Regions from separate parts of the Homo sapiens genome. Here region 1 is linked to region 2. The links come from fine-mapping of genetic effects on gene expression. Tissue or cell type: tibial nerve. Region 2 holds a variant in brackets; the other region holds the start of a gene. All regions are shown on one strand. Distances are between the middles of the regions.

What was found.
Region 1: HADH starts here. The variant in region 2 is fine-mapped to the expression of HADH in tibial nerve (GTEx, PIP above 0.99).

Annotation. Positions count from the first base shown.
Region 1 is chr4:107,986,435-107,994,773 of GRCh38, forward strand. It overlaps HADH (hydroxyacyl-CoA dehydrogenase), which reads left to right and starts at 3,455. Exons shown (of 8, transcript NM_005327.7): 1 at 3,455-3,630. The coding sequence starts at 3,499. RefSeq lists a silencer at 3,222-3,451.
Region 2 is chr4:108,012,584-108,020,922 of GRCh38, forward strand. HADH (hydroxyacyl-CoA dehydrogenase) reads left to right here. Exons shown (of 8, transcript NM_005327.7): 3 at 1,848-2,005; 4 at 6,957-7,083. Among named protein-coding and RNA genes, the nearest start is that of HADH, 27 kb to the left of the region's middle. The variant C/T (reference allele first, on the strand shown) is at 4,094.

The DNA.
Region 1 (8,339 bases), 26 kb before region 2:
ATTGTATATTTCAAGATAGCTAGAAGAGATGATTTTGAATGTTATCCCCAAAAAGAAATGATAAATGCTTAAAGTGACATATTATTTAATAATTATCCTGATTTGATCATTGTTCAACATATACATGCATTGAGACATCACACTGTACCCCATAAATATGTACAATTATTATTTGTCAATTGTACATAAAAGTAAAAAAAAAAAACTATCAGAATGATGCCTGCAAAAGGTATCTTGTGCTTCCGGGCATTGCATACTTAAGACGTTGGGGACTACCTATGTGGGTACAAATAATTGCTTGTGTGATTTCACTGGATTAAATCTAGCAAAGTCTTTTTACTAGATCCAGTGGTTTGCACCCTTACAACATGCTATATAGGGACCACAGAAGAGTAAGTTCACCACTGGATTTTATTCAGGAGCTATGCCAACTTGTGGGTGGACAAATTTAACTGACCTCGGCTCAAACACCACTAAGTGGCCCTCTTTTCAAGCCCCCAAGGGCCTACATTGGGTTGGTGGATAATCTGACCTGCCTTCTCTGTTGTTTCCTCACTGGTTCAGATCTTGCTATTTGGCCTGGCTCGCTCCTACATCCCAATAGCCTTCCCTGAAAGTTCCCATAATACCTTTCATAATCAGAGGTTAAAGCAGTCAATAACCAAAGTAAGCACCAACCTAAAAATAAATGAAGACAAGTTAGTTTCTACTGAGGAAAGGTTCCAATGGAGGTGCTGGAACTCACTCTTGGCATTAGCAGGGTGCCTGTTGTATGGAATTTGAAACTAATCTATAAATTGGGGAAAATCTTGAATTTGTAGCCAGTCAGACCTCCTAGGGGTTCACATGGTAGAAGCTACTCAAATATTCTCAGTGGATCAAAACATTTGTGTTCAACAAACACACTTCATGGAACATTACACAACTTTGGATCTCCTCTTTGCTCATGCTGGGGGCTCTTGCATGGTGCTGAATAAAACTGAATGTTGCACTTATTTTTCCTCTAATTTTACTACTATAGAAAACTTAATTTAAAAGGTGGCAGATACTGCTGTTTCTCTAAACACTGCCACTGAATATATTAAGGAAACTTCTCAGGGGAAAGGAACACATGATACATTTATGGGAGCAGCTAATGGTTGGTTTGTAGGCATCCTGAGTAGTGAAAGGCAAGCTAGGCTATTCCAAACTTTTCTAATCTTTATGCTTCTTTAGTGGCTCTCCAGGTTATTATAACTTGTGTTACCAGGCTAATTACAAAAATGGATACCTCTTTAAATCAGGCCATAAGGCTGAATCAGGTCATTCAGTGAACTATGGTCCTTGTAAAAAGTAAAGTAGAGGTTCCTTTTCAAAGACTTTCCTCCTCATCTGATTAGGAATAAATAGTAACCTCTCTTAGAAGCAAAATTTATTCAAAGACCTGTTAACATTCTTAAATATCTGCTAGCTGTAATAAAGAAATCAATGTACTTTATGTTCTTAGCTCCCACAATTTAGCCTAAATATTTGCCCTGGCATGCTTATACTGGTCCAAGTGGGCATTAGGTCATAGCCTGTTCCTCTTCCTTATTTAGAGGTGTTTTTCCCTTCTCAGCATTCCACAAGTTACTTCCTCCTTCCTTTGTTCTCCTCTGCCTTTGCCTCTTTTAAGAATTTCTAAGTTGCTAGCCAATCAAGACAAATACAGAATGTGAAGTCCCGTTCTAGCCAATGGAAACCAGTCACAACAGTAAGGTGGACGGGTCAGGTTATAAATGACCCTGCCTCCTTTGTTCGGTGTACTCTTGTGGCAAAACTGCTGGCGAGTGTACTCTTTCCGCAGAAAGTAAAAATGGCCTTGCTAAAGAAATTAATTTTATGTTCAAGTGCTATTTCTTTACGGCACCAAGAAATAAGCATTTCTAGCAGTCCTTAACCGCCATAATGCCCTAAATTAGACCATGACCAATTGGACTCAAATACTTTGAACTATCTTTATTGCCTGAACTTTGAATTGTTTAATTTTGATCAGTTCAGTTTGTGGAGACTCCTGTTAAGGTGTGTACCTCAGTTTATTGCTATACTCCTTCTCGTGGCCATAATAGTCTCCCTGATGTGTTGTTGTCCCCTCGAGAGTCTTCAATGTCTCTATGCAGCCATCCTTTGTACACCAAATGGTGTTATTACAGTTAGAATAACAACATGAAGAAAGTATAATCACTCAACTAATTTGACATTGTGACTTCCATACTGAGACAAAACAAGGTTCTGGTCAATCTCGTAAAACTGAGAGGCTGACCCAAAGGAGGAAACTGTTATTAAATTAAATCTGGCCTAAAGTTGCCTCCCTACCTAGCAAAGCATAATCAAACCTAATATGTAAATAAACTGCAATGTAATTTGAGAGTACGTTCTTCTAACAAGTGGCCAAGTCTTGGCCAATCACCGCAGCGGAGCTTTTAGCCCATTACAGGCTGCAAAAAATATTGTCTATAAACGCGGCTTGCCCACTGTTAGGGGCTGGAGCTCTCTGAACCTTTACTGGCTCAGGATACTACATGATTCATGCTTTCTTTGCTCAGATAAACTCTGCTAAACTTGTTTGAAGTTTTTTTGTTAACAATATTTAAACATAAAGCAAATAAATTAATAAGAATCCTATATCACTAAGTTACAGTAATTAGAAAGTATTCACCTGAGTGAGAAGATTGGCCAAGCTGCTATCCAGTCTTCCATTATTTGACAAGACATTTCTTTCCTATGCTTTCTAATAGTATTCGTTATTCCAGAAAGGTTGCTCTATGACCTTAAACCGTCCACATGTTCACTGCACTGATAGACGTCCAACGTCAAGATGGGTAACTAAAGGTCAACTCTCTCTTTACCTTCCCTGAGCCTGATTTTTGCATTGTAACTCATGGTCACTAGACATTTGTTTTGGGTGTTCGCAGTCTACATTTATTTCCCTTTTAGGGGAAACAATCACTGTCCACGGGATTAAAATAATCCCGAGTTGATTATTTGGTGACATCAACCAACGGTGCACATTTTGGGTCCATTACCAACACAGCCAAGCAGCACATATTTCTTCAGAGCCTAGATATGCACATGTCATCAAAGGATAGCATTTTACAGAGTCAACACCACTCACTTCATAGAACAAGGGGCCAGTGGCTTTTCAGAAGAAGGGTCTGTTCTCGGCCCCACACCAGAACGCCAGCCGCCAGGTCCCGCTGCTCAGCAGGTCTCAAGCCCGCGCTCACTCGGGCTCCGGCTGCTGACAGCTGCGAGCCCGCGCGTGTATACCCGCTCAACGCTGGGACGTTACAGCCAGGGCCAATGGGCAGAGCGGGACTCGAGGCCCCGCCCCCGCCTTGTGGCGTCACGGGGACGCCGGGGGCGCGCGGGCTGCAGGGCCGCGTAGGTCCCCGCCCCCAGAGTCTGGCTTTCCGCGGCTGCCCGCCTCGCGCGTCTTCCCTGCCCGGGTCTCCTCGCTGTCGCCGCCGCTGCCACACCATGGCCTTCGTCACCAGGCAGTTCATGCGTTCCGTGTCCTCCTCGTCCACCGCCTCGGCCTCGGCCAAGAAGATAATCGTCAAGCACGTGACGGTCATCGGCGGCGGGCTGATGGGCGCCGGCATTGCCCAGGTGAGCGGCCCTCCCTGCAGCGTGCCCACGCGCTTGGCCGCCCACCCTGAGGTGGAAGCTCTGGCGCGACCGGCCGCGAGGGGCCTGCACCCGCCCGACACCAGGGAGTTTTCACCCCGCGCCTCCCGGGTGTAGTTGAAATATCTCGCGTCTGGGCCTGTGAGGGCCCAAGTCTCACTCCCCTCAAAATTCAGGGTTCTGGGCCGATCCTCAGCTTCCTCGTTTGGAAAATTCTGGCTGCCCCCAGGGCCCGCTGAAGGTTCCATGGAGAGTGGCGGTGAATGCATTTTGGAAGCGGGCCGTGCAAGAGAAGAAAGAATTGTATGTGCACAAGGTTCAGGCATAACGCGTTTGTTCCTGCTCGGCTCAAACGGGAGTTTGCTGCCAAAGACATGAACTGCGATCAGTTTTAATTCTATCAGTTATTTTTGATTTTTATTCTGTAATTGTGCAGTCTTTGTCAAAGTAGTTTTCTCTCCTAAACGGCCTCCCGGCTCTCCCCGGTCTTTCCTTCGCTTGCTAGGTTGTAAAGAATAGTAGTAGTCATGACTTTTGTAGCACTTTGTAAAGTCACCTAATGGAAGATTGCTGAGGTCCTGGTTTTGACCTTTGAAATAGTGCCGTCTGTGCAGAGTTCTGAGCTTGCGATTTTGGCGCTGCAGCGGAATAAGTCTCTCTCTTTTTTTTTTTTTTTTTTTTTTTGAGTCGGAGTCTCTTTGACCCAGGCTGGAGTGGAGTGCAATGGCGCGATCTCGGTTCACTGCAACCTCCGCCTCCCGGGTTCAAGCGATTCTCCTGCCTCAGCCTCCCGAGTAGCTGGGATTACAGGCGCCCCGCCCGGCTAATTTTATATTTTTAGTAGAGACAGGGTTTCACCTTGTGGGTCAGGCTGATCTCGAACTCCTGACCAAAGGTGATCCGCCCGCCTGGCCTCCCGAAGTGCTGGGATTACAGGCGTTAGCCACTGCACCCAGCCGGAACAAGTCTTTTATCCATTGTACATCTTCAGGGCTTTTCCATTGTTCTGCTGAGCTGTGGTTCAGGCTCAGTTGTGCGAGTGATTGATTACCTGGCTACTGTAATGCTTGTACTTTTTTTTTTTAAAAATTATTCCATTTCAGCTCACATTGGAGAACCATGGTTTTCGTATCCTAGCTGATTATATTCTTAGCATTTCAGTCCTTTGCAACTTGGTTTGTTGGGGAAGGCGGTTATAGTCATCTAATTTTTCTTGGGGACAGTACTACTGTGGCTACAGTCATGAGAGAGTTTACTTTTTCAATGTCTTGTTTCCAACCAAGTCCACGCTTTCATGCTTGCTTTTTAAAAACAAAAACAAAAAAACCTTTTACTATTAGGTATTATATATCTCAATTTTCTTCTCCTTGGCAAGTTTTTTACAACGTTTTTATTTGATTGCATTTTCTTCTAAAAGCTATATCCCTGTAATGTTTTATTTATATGACTTCTTACAGTCTCCCATTTCCTCTGAGACCATAATTTTGGACATACATTGCCCTTTTTATTGTGTGGATCCCCTGGCTGCTAGGTTATAGTATCCCCATAATCTATGTTGTATGTGGACTGGGAGGAGTAACTCCCTTTAACCTAAAAGTTCCACAGGTTATACTCAAGAGAAAGTTTAGTTTGAGTACGTTTGTATTCCCAGGCTCCACCCAAATCTCCCAAGGCTGTGAGAGTGAGATTTGTTGTGAGCAGGAATAGAACAATGTGTTTTTTAGAAACATTTTAACAACATCTTAGTAACAAAATATTAGGGCCTTAAGCAGCCTCCAGGAACATTATGGGAAATGGATCCAGAAACTTGTGGCTGGTGTCCTTGAAGACAGCAGTGGAAAAAGATTAGAAACTAAGTAGAAAGCGTCACTTCAACTTTTGTAGAAAATCAGAGTGCTTAGTTCTTTGAATGCTGCATCCATCATTGGCCAAAAATGGATGTTGTGTTGCATTAAAAGGCAGAGGGGCAATACCTAAAATTACAGGTATGGTGTTGGAGCTTTCACCTGACAAAGGAGTAAGGAGAAATGATTGACATTAATGGAGAACACAGGCTTGTGCTTGTCAATCAAACTCTTAAATAGGTGGACCAGGGAGTGCCTTTTGAAACTTAAGGGAAAAAAAAGCTATTTATGCCATAGGCTGGACACATAATGGAACTGTCATTCTGAAAGGTTATAAAGACCAGAAATCTATAAAGTGGACGACCATAAGAAACAGTTCCATCCTTATGTAACACAGTTTGGAAAAACCTCAGTTACTTTAGTTGACAGCTCCAATCCTCTAAAACATTTGTGAGCAATGCTTTGCAGTGGTTTAGCTTATCTGCTTTTGCACCCTACCCTGTAGCATGCAGTTCTAGGCAGTATTGCTTCATTCTTTATGCTCCTTGACCAACAGCTTTTGGCATAGGGTAAATCTGTTTTGCTTATTGAGTGCCAGAGACGAATTAGTTGATGTGTTTTGAGTACAGATGGGCTACAGTTCAATATAAGAAGTTGGATGGTCTGCATGCTAGCTCTGCCTCATGCAGTATTAACATGGGACTTTACCTCTGTGTCTCGGTTTTCTCATCTCTAAAGTAGACTAATGCTAGTACTGGCCTCGTAGGGAGAGAATTGAATAAATTCAATGAATTCATGCATATGTCAAGCAGTTACATATATCAAGCATATGTCAAGCACTTACACAGTGTCTGGCATGTAATAAGAGTTCACAGAAAGTTAGCTGCCTTTATAATAATTATCTTCGGCCCGGCATGGTGGCTCAAGCCTGTAATCCCAGCACTTTGGGAGGCTGAGGGGGGCAGATCATCTGAGGTCAGGAGTTCAAGACCAGCCTGGCCAATATGGTGAAACCCTGTCTCTACTAAAAATACAAAAAAATTAGCCAGCATGGTGGCATGTGCCTGTGGTCCCACCTACTTGGAAGGCTGTGGCAGAATAGTCTCTTGAACCTGAGAGGTGGAGGTTGCAGTGAGCCGAGATCGCACCACTGCACTGTAGCCTGGGCAACAGAGCGAGACTCCGTCTCAAAAAGATAAATAAAAAGAATAATCATCATCTTCATTGCAGTTGTCCTGTCCTTTTGCCCTTTTCCCCTCATATCCACTCCCATCCTGATCACAGCTGCTGAGGTAGGCCTGTAAGGTTTAGATGGAGAATATTGGTCATGATTCCCTGTTTCATCTTGCTTAATCTTGAATGCATATACCCGCTGATGCTGCAGCGGGTATGTTTTTTCAGGGACCTCTGAAAGGAGGGAGAACACTTTTTAGTTACCCCCCATTTTATTGTTAAACTTTAGTAAAGCCATAAAAGTACAATCACAAACTAGTATTGAGGTTATGTTACTGATTTTCATTAGCTTAATTTTCTTGAACTTTCTGACGTGGTTTTAATGTTAGTCAAGGTGCAGTTCTGCTTATAATTTTAATAGTTTTGTCATTTTAAACACGTCAGTTTGTGCTCAGAAGGATGAAAAAATATTTAAATAGATTTTGTGGGAGCCTGATGCATTTCTCAAGCAATTAAGCAATTTAAGACAAGTTCAGTGCTTAATTACATTTGATCAGAGCACAGGCCATTTGTACATGTGTATTTTCCGAGAGTATCTACTTTGCCTGTCATTTCTTTTGTTTGTTTTAAATTAAAAAAACAAAAAATCCCTTAGACTGCAGGTTAATATTTGAAGTTAACTTGTTTCATGTGTTTGCTTATTACACACTTCTGACTTGGTTTTGATTGCTAATTTATCTTCACTGGATACTTAGGCCAATAAAGAAGCTTATAGGATTAAATGAGCCTTGAGTGGGGGACAGGTTGTTTTTTTGCTTTATAAAGAGGAAAACAAGAAAGGAAGAAAGCTGGTAGCTGTGTGCATTTCTCCAGTATTGAATCCTTTCTAGGCTTTGCTTCATACATTGGGTTTTTTCATATGAGGAGCCCAGAGAGAATGCATAGCTTTCATTAGATTACTTGTGAGGAGCCAGTGGGCTCCCTGGGAACGGGGCACTTCAGATGTCCCCCTTGAGACACTTTACATGCTCTCCGGGTGCAACCTTCTTTTTAGTGCACTACTCTTCTTTGAGGAAGTGAGAAAGTTTGCATCTTAAAGGGGGTTGGGGATAGGTTCTTCTCTCCCAAAGCTTGCTTTTTTTTTTTCCTCCTTTTTAAAAAGCAGAAAGTGCATATTTTTTCTAGAGAGAGCTTCTTTGGCTATTAAAAACAAAGTAAGGGCAGGGAGAGCCTGCTACGTTGCAGGGATTTTGTGTGACTCTACCATGCTTGATAAGGATTCAGGTAGACCTGAAAGCTTCTCCCCAGCCACTGGATTTGTTCTCTCATCTCTTCTTCTTGCCCCCAAATCTGCATTTTCTGATGCTGAAAAAGAGAATGATCAGAGTTGTTTCATATTTTTTTAGCTTTATTCTCTTCTACTGTGAGTACAGCTCTGTTGAGCTGTACAGTACAGTACTGCTTTGCTTGCAAAGCAGTACAGATGCCTAGGAGAAGTTTCAGGATCACAGGAGACCAGCAGTTACCTGGCTGTAAGCTCTCCTTTTGACTGTTCCTTATGGAGGGAATATTTGTACTCCCAGTTGTTACCTTCCTGCTGAAGGACATGAGATGTGTCTGTTTGTTATGAAGTTTTCCCCCTACTTCCCGAGTTGTTGCTTATCTTTGTTGGGC
Region 2 (8,339 bases):
GGCAAAGGCAGATGAGAACAAAGGAAGGAGGAAGTAACTTGTGGAATGCTGAGAAAGGTAAAAACACCTCTAAATAAGGAAGAGGAACAGGCTATGACCTAATGCCCACTTGGACCAGTATAAGCATGCCAGGGCAAATATTTAGGCTAAATTGTGGGAGCTAAGAACATAAAGTACATTGATTTCTTTATTACAGCTAGCAGATATTGAAGAATGTTAACAGGTCTTAGAATAAATTTTGCTTCTAAGAAAAGTTACTATTTATTCTTAATTAGATGGGGAGGAGAGTCTCTTTGAAGAGGAACTTCTACTTTACTTTTTACATTAAGATATTCTTCACCTGTCCCTTATATTCTTTTTTGTTGAGACGGAGGAGTCTTGCTCTGTAGCCAAGGCTGGAGTGCAGTTGCGCGATGTCGGCTCACTGCAAGCTCCACCTCCCGGGTTCACGCCATTCTCCTGCCTCAGCCTTTTGAGTAGCTGGGACTGCAGGCGCCCGCTACCACGCCCAGCAAATTTTTGTATTTTTAGTGGAGACGGGGTTTCACCATGTTATCCCGGATGGTCTCGATCTCCTAACCTCGTGATCCGCCTGCCTCGGCCTCCCGAAGTGCTGGGATTACAGGTGTGAGCCACTGCGCCCGGACCATCTGTCCCTTATATTCTTAATTGTAGTGGGACCCCATGCAGGGGATGTTATGAGGAGGGTCCAGACAGATGAGATTATAAGAGCCCTGGGCTGAGGGTTGGAGTCTAGGACAGAGTGAGTTTGACCCAGATAGCCTGCATTTTCTGCTTGTTTACAGACTTTCAGCTAATTGTCTCCTTGGGCTGAGTTTCTGAGCCACACCCTAAAGATAAAAGGATGGCCCCTATGCTCAAGTTGCTCAGCTCTGGCTAGCTACTCCTCAGAAGTCTATACTCCTGAGGTTTCTCTCCTCTGCCAGGGACACCACTGAGGAGGGAGGTGTCAGTTTCTCTGCCTAGTTGACATACTATGCTTATCTAGCTCTATACTGACCACCAATATAATAGCTACTCACAAGTGGCTACTGAGTGCTTGAAATGTGGCTAGTCTAGATAGAAATGTGCTCTGAGTGTAAAATAGACACTAGATTTTAAAGCTATAATAGGGGAAAAATATATAAAACATCTCAATATTTTTAAATATTGAGTACCTGTTAAAGTGATGGCATCTTAGATATATTGGGTTAAATAACATTAATTTCACCTGCGAATGTCTTTTCCCTTTTTTTAATGTGGCTAGTAGAATATTTCTGTATAACAGCTGAGATCTAGCTGCTTATTCCATGATGATTTTGGATGCCTTTGCTGATTATGACTATTTTGATGCCCTGTGGACAAATTACACTATGAAATAAAATGGCGGCTTATAGAGGCACCATCTCCAATTCTGTCCTTATTGAGGTCTGTGGAAACCTGGAGTCACAGGAGAAAAATGAGGAAACGATGAAAACTACAGGCTCTTTGGCAGCAGAGGCTGTGTCTAGCTTGTTTCGGAAACAACAGTTTCAGGCATATGACAGACAATAATTATTTGATAAATGCTAAGTCGGCTTTCTTACCCTGGCTCTTGCCCTTGCTCTAATAGGAGCTAGTCTCTGCTTTTATTAGAGAGGAATAGTCAGCACCACCTCAAGACTAATGGATGGCAGGGAGCTATGGAAGGATAAATTACAGGCTTCGTGGACACTTTGAGAACAGATAGGGTAGGCCAATACAGGTGCTCTGAACACCCAGTTTGCTAACTGGAGCAGAGCTAAGAACTTGAAAGATAATTTCCAGTGAGCCCGGTGAATGTTCTCTTCTTCCTCCCACTGCATTAGGCCGGCGATGAATTTGTGGAGAAGACCCTGAGCACCATAGCGACCAGCACGGATGCAGCCTCCGTTGTCCACAGCACAGACTTGGTGGTGGAAGCCATCGTGGAGAATCTGAAGGTGAAAAACGAGCTCTTCAAAAGGCTGGACAAGTTTGCTGCTGAGTATGTAACCTCTGGACAATCTTCTTTTTTTTTTTTTTTAACCTTATTTTTGTTTTTCATTTTTATTTTTTGTTTTTATAGATTTGTGAGTACAAGTGCAGTTTTGTTCCATGCCTATATTGTGTAGTGGTGAAGTCTGGGCTTTTAGTATACCCATCACCCACATAGTGAACACTGTACCCAATAGGTAATTTTTCAACCCTCGCCACCCTCCCACCTTTTGAACTCTCCAGTGTCTGTTATTTCCCTCTGTACATCCATGGGTACCTGTTATTTAGCTATCACTTATATGTGAGAACATATGGTATTTGACTGAGTTGTTTCACTTAAGATAATGGCCTTCACTCCTGTTCATGTTGCTTCAAAAGACATGATTTTATTCTTTTTTATAGCTGAGTAGTATTCCATGGTGTATATATGCCACATTTTCTTTAATCAGCCATTGATGGACACTTAGGTTGATTTCGTGTCTTTGCTATTGTGAATAGTGCTGCAATAAACATATGAGTGCAGGTATCTTTTTGATAGAATGAGTTTTTTTCCTTTGAATATATACCCAATAGTGGGGCTGCTGGATCGCATGGTAGTTCTGTTTTTAGTTTTTTGAGAAATCTCCATACTGTTTTCCTTAAAGGTTGTACTAATTTACATTGCCACCACCAGCATGCAGGGGTTCCCTTTCTCCAGATTCTCACCAACATCTGTTGGTTTTGACTTTTTAATAAAAGCCATTCTGACTGGTATCAGGTGCTAAACTCATTGTGGTTTTAATTTCCATTTCTCTGTTGATTAGTGATGCTGAGCATTTTCTCATATGTTTATTGACCACTAGTGTGTCTTTTTTTGAAAAATATCTGTTCATGACCCCTGGACATTCTTGACAGATTCTGAGGGGTCCCTCCCTGGGCCTTGAACTTTCCTCCTTGTTTATTGCCTTCTCCCAGGAAGGGATCCTTTGACCAAGTTTATCCACCTCCCTCTCTCCTACCCCACAGCTATTTCAAGAAAAGCCAATATGGTTTCCGTTGTTCTCCATCCTCCCACTCCCAGTTTGCTTCTGAAGCTTGGGCTGCTGTGATCTGATCCTTGTCCCAGATGCGTGTAGAATTACCCATGGTAACATGGAGGGGTCCATCCAGGGACAGGCCTATGTTTCTTGAAGTGTGTAGGTCATGGATACTCCTATGCCAGAAGCTGCTCTGACGTTCCTTGGTTCATTTCACACTGGCATCTAGAGGCTGCAGAGACATCTGACAGCAGACAGTTAAGGACATGTAGGGTACTTCTGTGCTCCACTCTCGGGCATAGGAGTACCCTACGTGTCCTTAACTGTCTGCCAAGGACCCTCAGAGCAGTTCTGTGTTTCCTCCTTTTTTGGATGGAGCAAACAGAATGGTGTAATTGAAGGGAATGCCTATAGACAGAGAGGACTTTCCTGTTTTGAGCTTCATCTGGGTTCAATCGAAGTACTCTTGGGAGTGTTAAAGGAGCATTGACTTCTTAGCTGGCTGGCTTCCTGGTGGAATTCTTCCTGGCAGAATGTACCTTGGGATCCAGAGCCTTCGAGTGTGTGACACCTGACCCACTGATCAGTGCTCTTCTAGTGACTTGTTTGACTATATTTTCATGCTTCTTGGTTGGAATTGAATGGCAGAATAAGATTATATGACAAAAGCAATTCTCAGGGCACTTCCGGTGGGCAGTGGCTAAAGAGAGTCACTTGCATACCAGCTTGTCGGAATGTTAACCTTCAGAGATGGGTGGCCTTGTGGCCAGAGAGGCCCTGCCCCTGACAAAGAGAAGAGACTTGCCTTTCTGTCATCTGTCCATCACTGCCAATCAGTGTCCTCGTGCATTTCACACTGGCATCTAGAGGCTACAGAGACATCTGACAAAAACAGAATATACTTGTGGTACCGGGACTGGCTCCCAGGCCAGCAGGGAGCCCTCTGGGATAATAAACAGCCACCCCAAAAAAGGGAGTTTTGTCAAGCAGTTTGATCTTTATTGAAAAGATTGGTCGCTCTTGGTGACAGTGAAAGGCCTGACTGCCCTCCATTGTCCATGTCTGGTACAGAAGAAGGATCA[C/T]TGGAGAAAGTCAGGAGGCCTGGGCCTGGTGCTGACCCCCTCACCACCTCCAGCCTTGGAAAGGTCCTCAGTTTCGTCATCTGTAATGCAAGTTGAGGTGATTGGGGTAAATAATTTCCTAGACCTTTCTGGCTCTAACTCTCTAAGACTAGCTTCCCCCATTTGTAAAATAGGAGCAGCAGCACTGGTACCTATTGTACAGAGTTGTTTAGGAAACTCATTTCATTTAGCTCACATTTCCTGAGTGCCTGCTGTGTATCAGGCACTACACTAGGCTCTTTAACCTGAATTGATGCAAAACAGATATGAGGTGTGAAAAGAAGGCATGACCCATAGTCATACCAAAGATGTGACTTTGCTGCTGACCTTCTCCACCTTTCTTGGCACTGTTTGTTTTTGTTTTAGATCACCACCATTATTGAATGCTTGCTACAATTTTTAAGCAGCCGTATTGAGAGGTACTTTACTGACAAATTTTACAGTTCGATCCTATAATGGGAGAAGAAAATATAGTCAAGTGATACATTTCGGGTTGGAAGCCCTGATGAAACAGTTGCATCCTGGAGAGAACATGACTTCTCTAGCAGCAGCCTAAGACACACAAATGAAAAGTATGACCAGACGCACAGGCAGCCAGATCGAAGTCCTGACTTTCCCCTTTAGACAAAGTACAGACTCTTGAATCCTTTGCCATCCCCACCAACCCTCTTGTCTTCTTTATACTAGGGTCTGGGGCCATTGCTAATAATCACTGTGCTTGTGTTGTCGATTTTCTTTTAGAACATTTAAGAGAAAAGTAGTTTTTTTGGTACCTGAGTGTCCGAATGAAAAAAACAAAAGATGGTTCAAGACAAGTGTTTCCAGGAACATGTAAGAGTACTTTTTTTTTTTTTTTGAGACGGAGTCTCGCTCTGTCGCCCAGGCTGGAGTGCAGTGGCATGATCTTAAGCTCACTGAAACCTCTGCCCCCCAGGTTCAAGCAATTCTCCTGCCTCAGCCTCCCTAGTGGCTGGGATTACAGGCATGCGCTACCATGCCCAGCTAATTTTTGTATTTTTAGTAGAGACGGGGCATGTTGGCCAGGCTCGTCTCGAACTCCTGACTTCAAGTGATCCACCTGCCTCGGCCTCCTAAAGTGCTGGTATTACAAGTGTGAGCCACCGTGCCCAGCCCAGAGTACATTTTGTTTGTGGATGAAAAGACTGTCCTATGTGTTTAGTATTCTCTGAAGACAGTGTGAGACTTTTAGGAACAAAGTCAGCCTGACCCTGTTGGGAGAGGCAGAAGCAGAGGTCTGCTGGGGAGAGATCATTTCCTCCTTCTGATAAAATGTGCCAGAGTGCCCTGGACTGGTGATACCTGGAACTGGGCTCTGATGTCACTTTATTTTACCAAATGTGCCCAAGTTTCCCCTTTTTGCAGGTGAATGGCCCTTCAAACATTCTACAAAAAGGGGTATTACGATTGTAATACTAATCTTTAAAATAACACTTTCTTTTCTTAACGGGAGTGTGGAGCCACAGCTGGCACAGCCTTGGGCCCAGGCTGTCCCTGCTCTGTTTTTGTGGTTCCAGGTGCTTGTGGTGCAGGTTGTGTGGTTGAACAGTGCTTGTGTTGGCCACACACATTGTTATTGGAAGAGGATCTTTTTTTCATTACCTTCTGTAATGGGGAATAGTTTATATTATTTTCCCCAATGACCAAAAGCAAGAAACTTTGAAAACTGAAATTTTAAGACCTTAAAACAATGTCATTTTTTTTTTAAAAAGGAAACCCTGGCATTTAAATGGCCTACCTTGGAAGCTGTTGGAGAAGGTGGATGTGCTCATACCTGGAAAGAGAAGGCTCTCCGCTGCCTACCCACACTGGTCTCGCCTTTTACCTCTTTTCCCTCCTTTCCAAATAACTGGTTTCTTCTCCCTTCTCTTCCTCCTCTCCTCCCACCCGCCCCTGATTTGAGCAGATTATAGTATTGCCTGTTAGGTAAGCAGAAACCCCCAAGCCTGGTCAGTAAGGGATCCTTTCCTTTCCTGCCCTGTTACAGTCCATCTTGGTTGGAATCAGCACCAGGCCTGTTTGTATGTTTTTATCCGCAAGGTGGCGCTGCAGGAAAGCCTGGAAGTCAACCTGTTTAAAGCTTTTCCTCTCATGCTTTTGGCACGCCACTTTACTGTGGCCTTAAAGAACTAAATTTGGTTTAAGTCAGTATGGATTTTTTTTAATGAATAAGTTAATGTCTTATATATGCATATGCCTATATCCTCTTTTCCCCATATCTACCCATGTAACCTTAAAATTTTTTTGAACCATGTTGGTGTTCTTGTTTTCATTTTAATTCCCATTCAATTGAAAAATAAAGCTTTTCACTTCAGGGAAAATATCTTAATTCACGTTTATTATCATATGTTTCTGATTGAGGATTTATGTGTTCATTTAGAATTTTGTTGCTTTTAGGTGTCTTTCTTTCATTATTTTTTGATCACTGAGTTTCGTTTGTGACTGGGGTTGGTTAAGTAGCTTGATCAATTAGCCACCTCTTGTTATCTCACATACCTTGGAAGTTAACTAATACAAGTAGGTAGGGGAAATTTTGTTCTGGAAAATCAAGGAAGGATTGGTGAAGGTTAAATACCTCTTCGGAACAGGAAATTCCAATTTTATTTCAAATTTAAAAATTTTTAAAAAGCTGAAGTCACTTGATTTCAGCCTCTTATATGAAGATGTGTCTTCTCCCTCATTCCCCCAATGGGTCAGGACAACAGATGTGGCAGTAAGCAGTCACCTTGTGCATTGCATCCAAGAGTCATGCTGTTTTGAAAGAAGAGATTCACTCTGATACTCCCACTATATTTTCTCTTCACAGACATACAATCTTTGCCAGCAACACTTCCTCCTTGCAGATTACAAGCATAGCTAATGCCACCACCAGACAAGACCGATTCGCTGGCCTCCATTTCTTCAACCCAGTGCCTGTCATGAAACTTGTGGAGGTCAGTGGGTGTCAGCTTGTGTGTGTCTGCCCGCTCTGCCAGCTCTCTCAGTCCTGCTTTTCTGTGTTACACCAGCCCTGCCACCAGTTGCCTAGGATGGGTTTTAACCTGAGGGTAGAAGGTTGTCCCTGAGCCTCATATCTAGGAGGGCTTCTATGCTTTGTTTCTTCACAGCCCTGTGTCTTGCTTAGTGATATCCAGAAAGGCTGTTAACTTTGTGGAATGTCATTTACTTATTTGTGCCAGAGCTGATGGGCAGTGCTGAGAGGCATCAGAATGGGAAGGCAGCACTAGAAACCGTGGGCTGGATGGGACCACACAGAGGGCAGCTACATGTGTTCATATTATCTCGTCGAGGTCAGCTTGCCCATGCTGTAAATGCAGTTCTCATTAGATACACTATACTAGCTTGTCCACAGTTCCTGGGGTTAATTCTGACCCCATGTAATGGTGCCTTAGCGTTGTCCCCAGATGAGGTACATCTCCTGTGCATTGTGATCAGAGCTATTAAAACCAGCTCCCATTGGGTGCGGCGGCTCATGCCTGTAATCCTAGAACTTTTGGAGGTGGAAGTTAGTGGATTGCTTGAGACCCAGGGGTTCAAGAACAGCCTAGGCAACATGGCAAGACCCCATTTCTACAAAAAATAAAAAATCAGCCAGGGGTTTTGGTGCACGCATGTAGTCTCCAGTACTTGGAAGGCTGAAGTGGGAGGATTGATTGAGCCTGGGAGGTTGAGGCTGCAGTGAGCTGTGATTGCACCACTGCACTCCAGCCTGGATGACAGAGCAAGATCCTATATCGAATAAAAAAACCCTAAAAGTAAAAAAATAAAACCAGCTTCTGATAGCCTTGAGCCTCCTGACCATAAACCTGGAAGGTGGAGCGGGGAGGCAGGGAGGGCTTCCCCAGCATCCTGTTTGGAATGCTTGGAGACTCCAATATGTTGGAGTTGGAGTCACAGTAGGCAATTTGCACCTGAAATGGGACAACTTGCCTTTTACAGGGTCCTAATTACAGGGTCTGAGGAGCAGCCGCTATTAAAGTAGCATTTGTTCTGAGGTTGAGGAGTTATTGCCCTGCGAAGTGTGGGGGACGCTGATGCTGCCATGTGGGTGATGTGGGGCCAGGCAAACCTACACACACTGGCTGTGGCCTCTCTGGGAGTGTGTATCGTCTGTTTTCTTCATTATTGCCTTTTCCAACTACCTTTTCCTTCCTTTATCCTCCTCATTCCCTCACCACTACTCAGCATA